Linked DNA regions of Homo sapiens. The protein of the gene in region 2 purifies or fractionates together with the protein of the main gene of each other region. This does not show direct contact. Each region holds a gene or a part of one and is shown on either strand. Other genes may lie near its edges.

Region 1 (4,222 bases), on a different chromosome or scaffold from region 2:
CTCAGTCTAGGGCGCAGCACGGAGAGTTCGCAACTGTTTCAGGAAGAAGGCAGGCGGGTGGGCCGACCCAAGAAACGCACATTATACCTCCGGCGAAGTGAAGGGAGGGATAACAAAGCAAAGCTTGAGGGCTCCGAGAAGCTCTGAAGAAAACAAATCCAGCCATAAGCCCACTCCTGTAACCCCAGGCTTTGGAAGACGGAGGCAGGTAGATCGCTTGAGGTCAGGAGTTCGAGACCAGCTTGGGCCACATGGCGAAACCCCGTCTCTACTAAAAACACAAAAGTTGGCTGGGCGTGTTGGCGGGCACCTATAATCCCAGCTACTCCAGCAGCTGAGATGGGAGAATCGCTTGAACCTGGGAGGAAGAGTTTGCAGCGAGCCGAGATCCTGCCACTGCGCTCCAGCCGGGGCGACAGAGCCAGACCCTGTCCCCAATATACATATCAGATAAGAAAAAAATATAAGAAAGTTTAAAAAAATTTTTTTTGGCTTTTTTTTGTTTTTTTTGAGACGGAGTCTCGCTCTGTCGTCCAGGCTGGAGTGCAGTGGCACGATCTCGGCTCACTGCAAGCTCCGCCTCCCAGGTTCACGCCATTCTCCTGCCTCAGCCTCCCGAGTAGCTGGGACTACAGGCGCCCGCCACCATGCCCGGCTGATTTTTTCTATTTTTCGTAGTGATGGGATTTCACTGTGTTAGCCAGGATGGTCTTGATCTCCTGACCTCGTGATCCGCCTGCCTCGGCCTCCCAAAGTGCTGGGATTACAGGCGTGAGCCGCCGCGCCCGGCCAGCCTTTTTTTTTTTTTTTGAGACAGTTTCGCTCTTGTCGCCCAGGCTGGAGTGCAGTGGCACGATCTCGGCTAACTGCAACCTCCGCCTCCTGGGTTCAAGAGATTCTCCTGCCTCAACCTCCCGAGTAGCTGGGATTACAGGCGCCCGCCACCACACCCATCTAATTTTTTGTATTTTTAGTAGAGACGGGGTTTCGCCACGTTGAGCAGGCTGGTCTCGAACTCCTGACATCAGGTGATCCGCCCGCTTCAGCTTCCCAAAGTGCTGGGATTACAGGCGTGAGCCACGGCGCCCGGCCAAAAAAAAAAAATTTTTTTTTTTTTTTTTAGATATTTTTTCACTCTTGTTGCCCAGGCTGGAGTGCAATGGCGTGATCTCGGCTCGGCCTCCCAAAGTCCTGGGATTACAGGCGTGAGCCACCGCGCCCGGCCCGAAAAAATTTTTTTAAAAGAAAAGGGAAACAAAACAGTCTCCTACACCTTCGGACCACTCCCAAGAACGATGGCACCGCCCTCCTCTCCGCCCCTCACCAACATGGCCGCCCCCAAGGGAGTGGGCGGGTCTGCGGGGCGGAAGTGACGCACGAGAGGAAGTCCGTCCTGCCGCTTGGCCGCGGGGCGCCTGGCTCAGTGGCTTCTGCGGGCTTCGAGGAGCGGGATGTTGCGGGCTGGGTGGCTCCGGGGCGCGGCGGCGCTGGCGCTGCTGCTGGCGGCCCGAGTGGTGGCGGCGTTCGAGCCCATCACCGTGGGCCTAGCCATCGGGGCCGCGTCGGCCATCACCGGCTACCTGTCCTACAATGACATCTACTGCCGCTTCGCCGAGTGCTGCCGCGAGGAGCGGCCGCTCAACGCTTCGGGTACGGCGCGCGCGCGAGCTGTGGGTCGGCGCTGCGGGGGGCGCGGGGGCGCGGGGGCGCGGAGGGACGGCCTCGTGGGCGCCTGGCACGGACCGGGCCCGTGGCATCTAGACGGCGGTGGTCCCAGCTGGGGTGGGCGGGGAGCGGATGGGGCGGCCCCGGAACCGTTCGCGGGAACGCAGAAGCGGTGCCTTCGCAAACAGTCTCCAGATCGTGGGGCTGCCCCAGCGCCTTTCTAAAGCTCCCGTTCCTTGGGATCACAGGTGGAAGAAACGGAAAGTAGGCGGGCGGCCCTTCTGCGCCCTGCCAACCCTATTAAGTAGTTTTCAGACGTGCTGCGTCGCCCAGAAAGCCCACATTTGGCCCCTGGTTTTCCTGCAGGTCAGCAAGGGTGGCTGGGATTAGCAAGCGCTCAGTCAAGCGATGGTTCATCTCTGAATGAATGAACATTTAGCTTCCTTATCAGACCCCGAAGCGTTAAGGACCTCCACATAATCTTGAAAGTGGCATCGTTTGACTGCCTCGGCCCTAGGGTGTGGCAGACACCCTGCTGTGTCCCTGGATAATCTGTGCTTCTTGCTTTGGCCAGCTAAGAAAGTGCTGCGTTGCTGATGCATTTTTAAGGTCTGTTTCTCTCTTTGTTCTGGGGCTGTTCTTGCAGCTCTCAAGCTGGATTTGGAGGAGAAGCTGTTTGGACAGCATCTAGCCACGGAAGTGATTTTCAAGGCGCTGACTGGCTTCAGGAACAACAAAAATCCCAAGAAACCACTGACCCTTTCCTTACACGGCTGGGCTGGCACAGGCAAGAATTTTGTCAGTCAAATTGTGGCTGAAAATCTTCACCCAAAAGGTCTGAAGAGTAACTTTGTCCACCTGTTTGTATCGACTCTGCACTTCCCTCATGAGCAGAAGATAAAACTGTACCAGGCAAGAGAACCCGCTATTATCTCGTCTGCAGGCCAGTCGGACTGGTCCGGGTGACCTGCTCACTAACTCTGGCCTCTGCTTCTCTTTCCTTTGTGTTGCTGTAGCCCCCGGCTCCACTGAGTTAAGGCACACTTAGTCCAGGTAGTTACAAAGCTCTCCTACAACATTTCTCTTACTTGGTTCCAAAACAGTCCAGTGGGGTAGGGGATGTTATTTCCATTAAAAGATGGGGAGCCAAGGGCCTGGCGCCGTGGCTCACGCCTGTAATCCCAGCATTTTGGGGAAGCCGAGGCGGGCGGATCATTTGAGGCCAGGAGTTTGAGACCAGCCTGGCCAACATGGTGAAACCCCATCTCTACCTAAAAGTACCAAAATTACCTGAGCACGGTGGCACGCACCTGTAATCCCAGCTACTTGGGAGGCTGAGGCAGGAGAATCGCTTGAACCTGGGTGGCAGAGGTTGCAGTGAGCTGAGATCGCGCCACCGTACTCGGTCTCAAAAAAAAAAAAAAAAAAAAGGCCTGGCACAGTGGCTCACGCCTGTAATCCCAGCACTTTCGGAGGCCGAGGGGGGCGGATCACGAGGTCAGGAGATGGAGACCATCCTGGCTAACACGGTGAGACCCCGTCTCTACTAAAAATACAAAAAATTAGCCGGGGATGGTGGCGGGCACCTGTTGTCCCAGCTACTCGGGAGGCTGAGGCAGGAGAATGGCCTGAACCCGGGAGGCGGAGCTTGCACTGAGCCGAGATCGCGCCACTGCACTCCAGCCTGGGCGACACAGTGAGACTCTGTCTCAGAAAAAAAAAAAAAAAAGAGAGATGTAGTCAGGGCCAGGTGCAGTGGCTCACGCCTGTAATCCCAGCACTTTGGGATCCGCCAAGGCGGGCGGATCACCTGAGGTCGGGAGTTCGAGACCAGCCTGACCAACATGGAGAAACCCCGTCTCTACTGAAAATACAAAATTAGCCGGGCGTGATGGCGTGCGCCTGTAATTCAAGCTACTTGGGAGGCTGAGGTTGCAGTCAGCTGAGAATGGGCCACTGCACCCCAGCCTGGGCAACAGAATGAGACTCTGTCTCAAAAAAAAAGAAAAAAAAAAAAGATGGAGCCTGGAGCCCAGAGGCAAGGTGACTTACTCCTACAATCTTTGTAGCAGAACAGGACCTTTGTAGCAGAACCAAAACCTCCCAACTCCCAGTTGACATGGTAGCCACCTTCTCTGGTGAGTGAAGGGATTCCACATCCCCAGCAGTGCAGTTGGTGAGAAGGGGCAGTCAGTCTTCAAGGATTTGCTCCGGTGTGGCTTCATTCAATGCTGCCCACCTCTGGTGCAGCCTCAGCTTTGCCTCTGCTCTTTGCAATGTAGCCTAGAGGTCTTTTTTCTCCTTAACAGGTTTTATTCCCTTTGTTCCTCCCATCCTTCATGTCCTTGGCATTGCTTTCTTCAAAGGAAGCCTCAAAGAACTGAACCTTGAGACTGTTTCTCCTTTTGAGATATTGTTTCCACATTCATTTTATATTAAGTTGTCTAGGAGGGTTAGTTCTCATTTAAATGAATGTTGTCCTTGTCAAGGTTAACATTCCCACTGGCAACATAGCAAGACTCCATCTCTACAAAAAATAAAAAAATTAGCCAGGTGT
Region 2 (3,500 bases):
CTGTGTATTTCCTGCTGTAATTTTCCCTCTGCTCAGAACTCAGACTCTTGAGTTTCTGATTCAACACATTGTTAATACACATTAAAGACTCAAGCATCTAAACAGACTAATTGGTACCTTAAAGCAGCACTTAATACTCTTCAGTGAACTACTTCCAAGTCAATTAAGAGAATCTTCTCTACTAGAGTAATTAACTTTAACATAAGATATGAACTATGTTATTTCTTGAGAATTATGCCTTTCTCCAGGTAGAAAAAAGAGTTGTAACATGTTCTGGTTCTCTTTCGGGTGCTTACTAGAATCAGTTGGGAATTAAAGAAGGATAGGGTCTGAAAATTAGGGACACAGCGTTGACGTAGGCAATTCATACTTAATGCTACACAAGTTTTTGAGTTTCTCAGCTTTAGTTTTCCCAAATGGGAAGTAAGAGTAATAGTTTTTACTGCCTGATCATTGTGGTAAGGATTAAGAGATTGGTTGGTGTGCGGAAACATTGTGAGCAGCTTGGATGAAAAGATGACCTGGCCGCACGTGGTGGCTCATGCCTGTAATCCCAGAACTTTGTGAGGCTGAAGCGGGTGGATCACAAGGTCAGGAGTTCAAGACCAGCCTGGCCAAGATGGTGAAACCCCGTCTCTACTAAAAATACAAAAATTAGCCAGGTGTGGAGGCGGGCGCCTATAATCCCAGCTACTCAGTAGGCTGAGGCAGAGAATTGCTTGAGCCTGGGAGGCGGAGGTTGCAGTGAACTGAGATTGCACCACTGCACTCCAGTCTGGGCAACAGAGCGAGACTCCGTCTCAAAAAATAATAATAATAAATAAATAAAAGAATGACCTGACTGTGGACTGGAAGGGTCTGGAATTGCTAAAGATGAGCCCCTGAGGTATTGCTGCCATGAGTTCCAGATTCGTGTCAGTTTTTTTGGCACCCACAGCAGGAACTGGGGACCTTTGTGATTCCTGGTTTGTCATTTTTCCTGGTGACTACAGAGTGGAGAGTCTTACGTCTTCAGCAAGACTTTGATGTTGTATTGGACAGCTGTGCCTCGTATGTAGTTAAGGAGACAGCACAGTTCACCGCACAAAGAGAGTGTCTCCATCCTTGGGTTTATAAGCTTCACACTTCAGTTTTTCTTTCCTATGCCTCTTCTGCATACAAAGCAGTGGACTTCCATTAAACTTTGTGAGGTGACATTTTCCTAGGTCCAAGGAGGGAGCCTAGTCTAGTGGCAGTAGCCCTGGGCTCAGCTCTCTCAACAGAAATCCATTCCCAGCTTGTCTCTGACCTCAATAGGGAAATTCCAAGGGATTTGTCCATTTTTTTTTCCACATTCTCTCTTACCAGATCTCCCCAGAGAAGCCCATTGTCAGGCTTGGGCTGGGAATCCAGTGAGTCACTACGCAGAGGTTTTGCTGACTTACTGGCTGAGGGCAGGATGATACATTGAGAAGAGATTGCTTACAGGAATGAATACAACACTTTGTGAGGAAAGAGGGGCGCTAACTACCATTACAGGCAGAATTAGATCCATTTGCATCTGCCCCCTGCATGGCCTCTCCAACGGGGCCATGAATATGCTGGAGGTGTTTGTGTCTAGCCTGGAGGAGTTTCAGCCAGACCTGGTGGTCCTTTCTGGATTGCACATGATGGAGGGACAAAGCAAGGAGCTCCAGAGGAAGAGACTCTTGGAGGTAATGGCACTGTTACAGAATTTCACAGATCTCAGCTGGTGGTTTTCTTCAGGTTCCAGCCTCTCTTGGCATCTGCTGCCTTGTTTCCTGTGGAAACAGCAAGCAGCTCTGCACGGTTCTTCTCATCCTTGCCTTGCAGAAGAGCCTGTTTATTTTTGCCTCTGTCACTTCCTGAAGAAATCAGTGTATTTTCAATACAGTGTGGCTCCTTTCTCCTAGGTTCAGTTAGGTCGTGTTTCCTAGCAGTGTCACTATTCAAGGGTTGAGTCCACGTCTTGCTCTCTGGAGAATGTCAATGTAATGTATTTTTCCCATCGTACAGAGTCTTTGTTGATTTGCAAAATGTTGGATTTGGGGTTCATACCCATATTTTTTGTTGTCATGGGCATTTAGGTCATCAGTCTGTTCTCTTATTTGCTTGTTCTTTTGTTAATTCATTCCCATGGCTATATGCCAGACACAGCATGATGCAGAAGGAATACGACAGAGGATGACACAGGCCCTGCCCTCAGCTCACAGTTTACTGCCAGAGATAGACACTTGGAAAAAGTAATTGCAGGCCGGGCATGGTGGCTCACGCCTGTAATCCCAGCACTTTGGGAGGCTAAGGCAGGCAGATCACCTGAGGTCAGGAGTTTAAGACCAGCCTGGCCAACATGGTGAAACTCCGTCTCTACTGAAAATACAAAAATTAGCCAGGCGTGGTGGCGGGTACCTGTAATCCCAGCTACTCGGGAGGCTGAGGCAGGAGAATCGCTTGAACCTGGGAGGCAGAGGTTGCAGTGAGCTGAGGTCGCGCCATTGCGCTCCAACCTGGGCAACAGAGTGAAACTCCATCTCAGAAGAAAAAAAAAAAAAAAAAAGGAAAAAAGAAAAAGGAATTGCAAAATCATGTGCCTCAGTCCTGTATTAGGGTACAGTGGTGGCCCCAGAAAGGAGGTAATCAAGTCTGCTTAGGGGTGGTAGGATTAGGAAAGGCTTCATGTTTAGGGAGGAACTAGCACTTGAACTTGGGTCTTTAAACAGTCATTCCTCTAAAGCAACTCACATAGAAGCAACTGGAGCAGCTAGATAGTCTGATCCTTTGGATCAGGTGCCCAGAAACCACTGATGGGCAGCAGGGAAGAGGAGATGCAGTGAGCTTGGCTGTTGGGAAGAAATTCAGCCTGCTTAAGTTCCAACTGAATGAAAGATGCTCAGGGCAATGCTGTGAGGAAGAATGTGCTTTAAACAATGACAGCCTATACTGTCTGCAGGGCGTGCGTGCTGCACACTGTATGCTGGTATTTGGAAGTCATGCTGCCATTCTGTACTGTCTCTCCTGTGTTTGAGAGCTCAAGTAGGGCTCTCCTGGGACTCAGGGGGAGCTAATTACCTTGAAAAAGGCATATAGCACCCATACTATGTTTCTGTTTCTTGGCTGGGTTTGGGTTTAGGTTTTTGGTTTGTTTCTTGCAGTGCCATGCTGACCTTAGGCCATTGTTGCTGGGGTCTCCTCAGCCAGAAACCAGCCTGCTTGGAGCCAAGGCTCCTGTGAGGTGCCTGAAAGTGCCCCCACAGCTAGGAGACCTAAAGCCTCTTCCTTTTCTTCCCATTGTGTTGACTGGGTTTTTCCAGGGGAGGAGTGGGGCCAGTTAAAAGCTCCCCATGCCAACCGATTCATCTTCTCTCACGACCTCTCCAACGGGGCCATGAATATGCTGGAGGTGTTTGTGTCTAGCCTGGAGGAGTTTCAGCCAGACCTGGTGGTCCTCTCTGGATTGCACATGATGGAGGGACAAAGCAAGGAGCTCCAGAGGAAGAGAC

What was found. The genes of interacting proteins can lie anywhere in the genome.
Region 1: the proteins of ADPGK (region 2) and TOR1B purify together in Homo sapiens (affinity purification with mass spectrometry; 2 studies listed by BioGRID and IntAct, with this or other methods). This does not show direct contact.

Annotation. Positions count from the first base shown.
Region 1 is NC_000009.12:129,801,762-129,805,983, forward strand, and holds the start of TOR1B (torsin-1B isoform 1 precursor), read left to right. Parts: upstream 1-1,422; 5' UTR 1,423-1,451; coding exon 1,452-1,650; intron 1,651-2,311; coding exon 2,312-2,577; exon of another isoform or gene 2,578-2,718; intron 2,719-4,222. UniProt on the Homo sapiens protein: May serve as a molecular chaperone assisting in the proper folding of secreted and/or membrane proteins. Plays a role in non-neural cells nuclear envelope and endoplasmic reticulum integrity. May have a redundant function with TOR1A in non-neural tissues.
Region 2 is NC_000015.10:72,756,259-72,759,758, reverse strand, and holds part of ADPGK (ADP-dependent glucokinase isoform 4 precursor), read left to right. Parts: intron 1-1,469; coding exon of another isoform or gene 1,470-1,694; intron 1,695-3,311; coding exon 3,312-3,500. UniProt on the Homo sapiens protein: Catalyzes the phosphorylation of D-glucose to D-glucose 6-phosphate using ADP as the phosphate donor. GDP and CDP can replace ADP, but with reduced efficiency.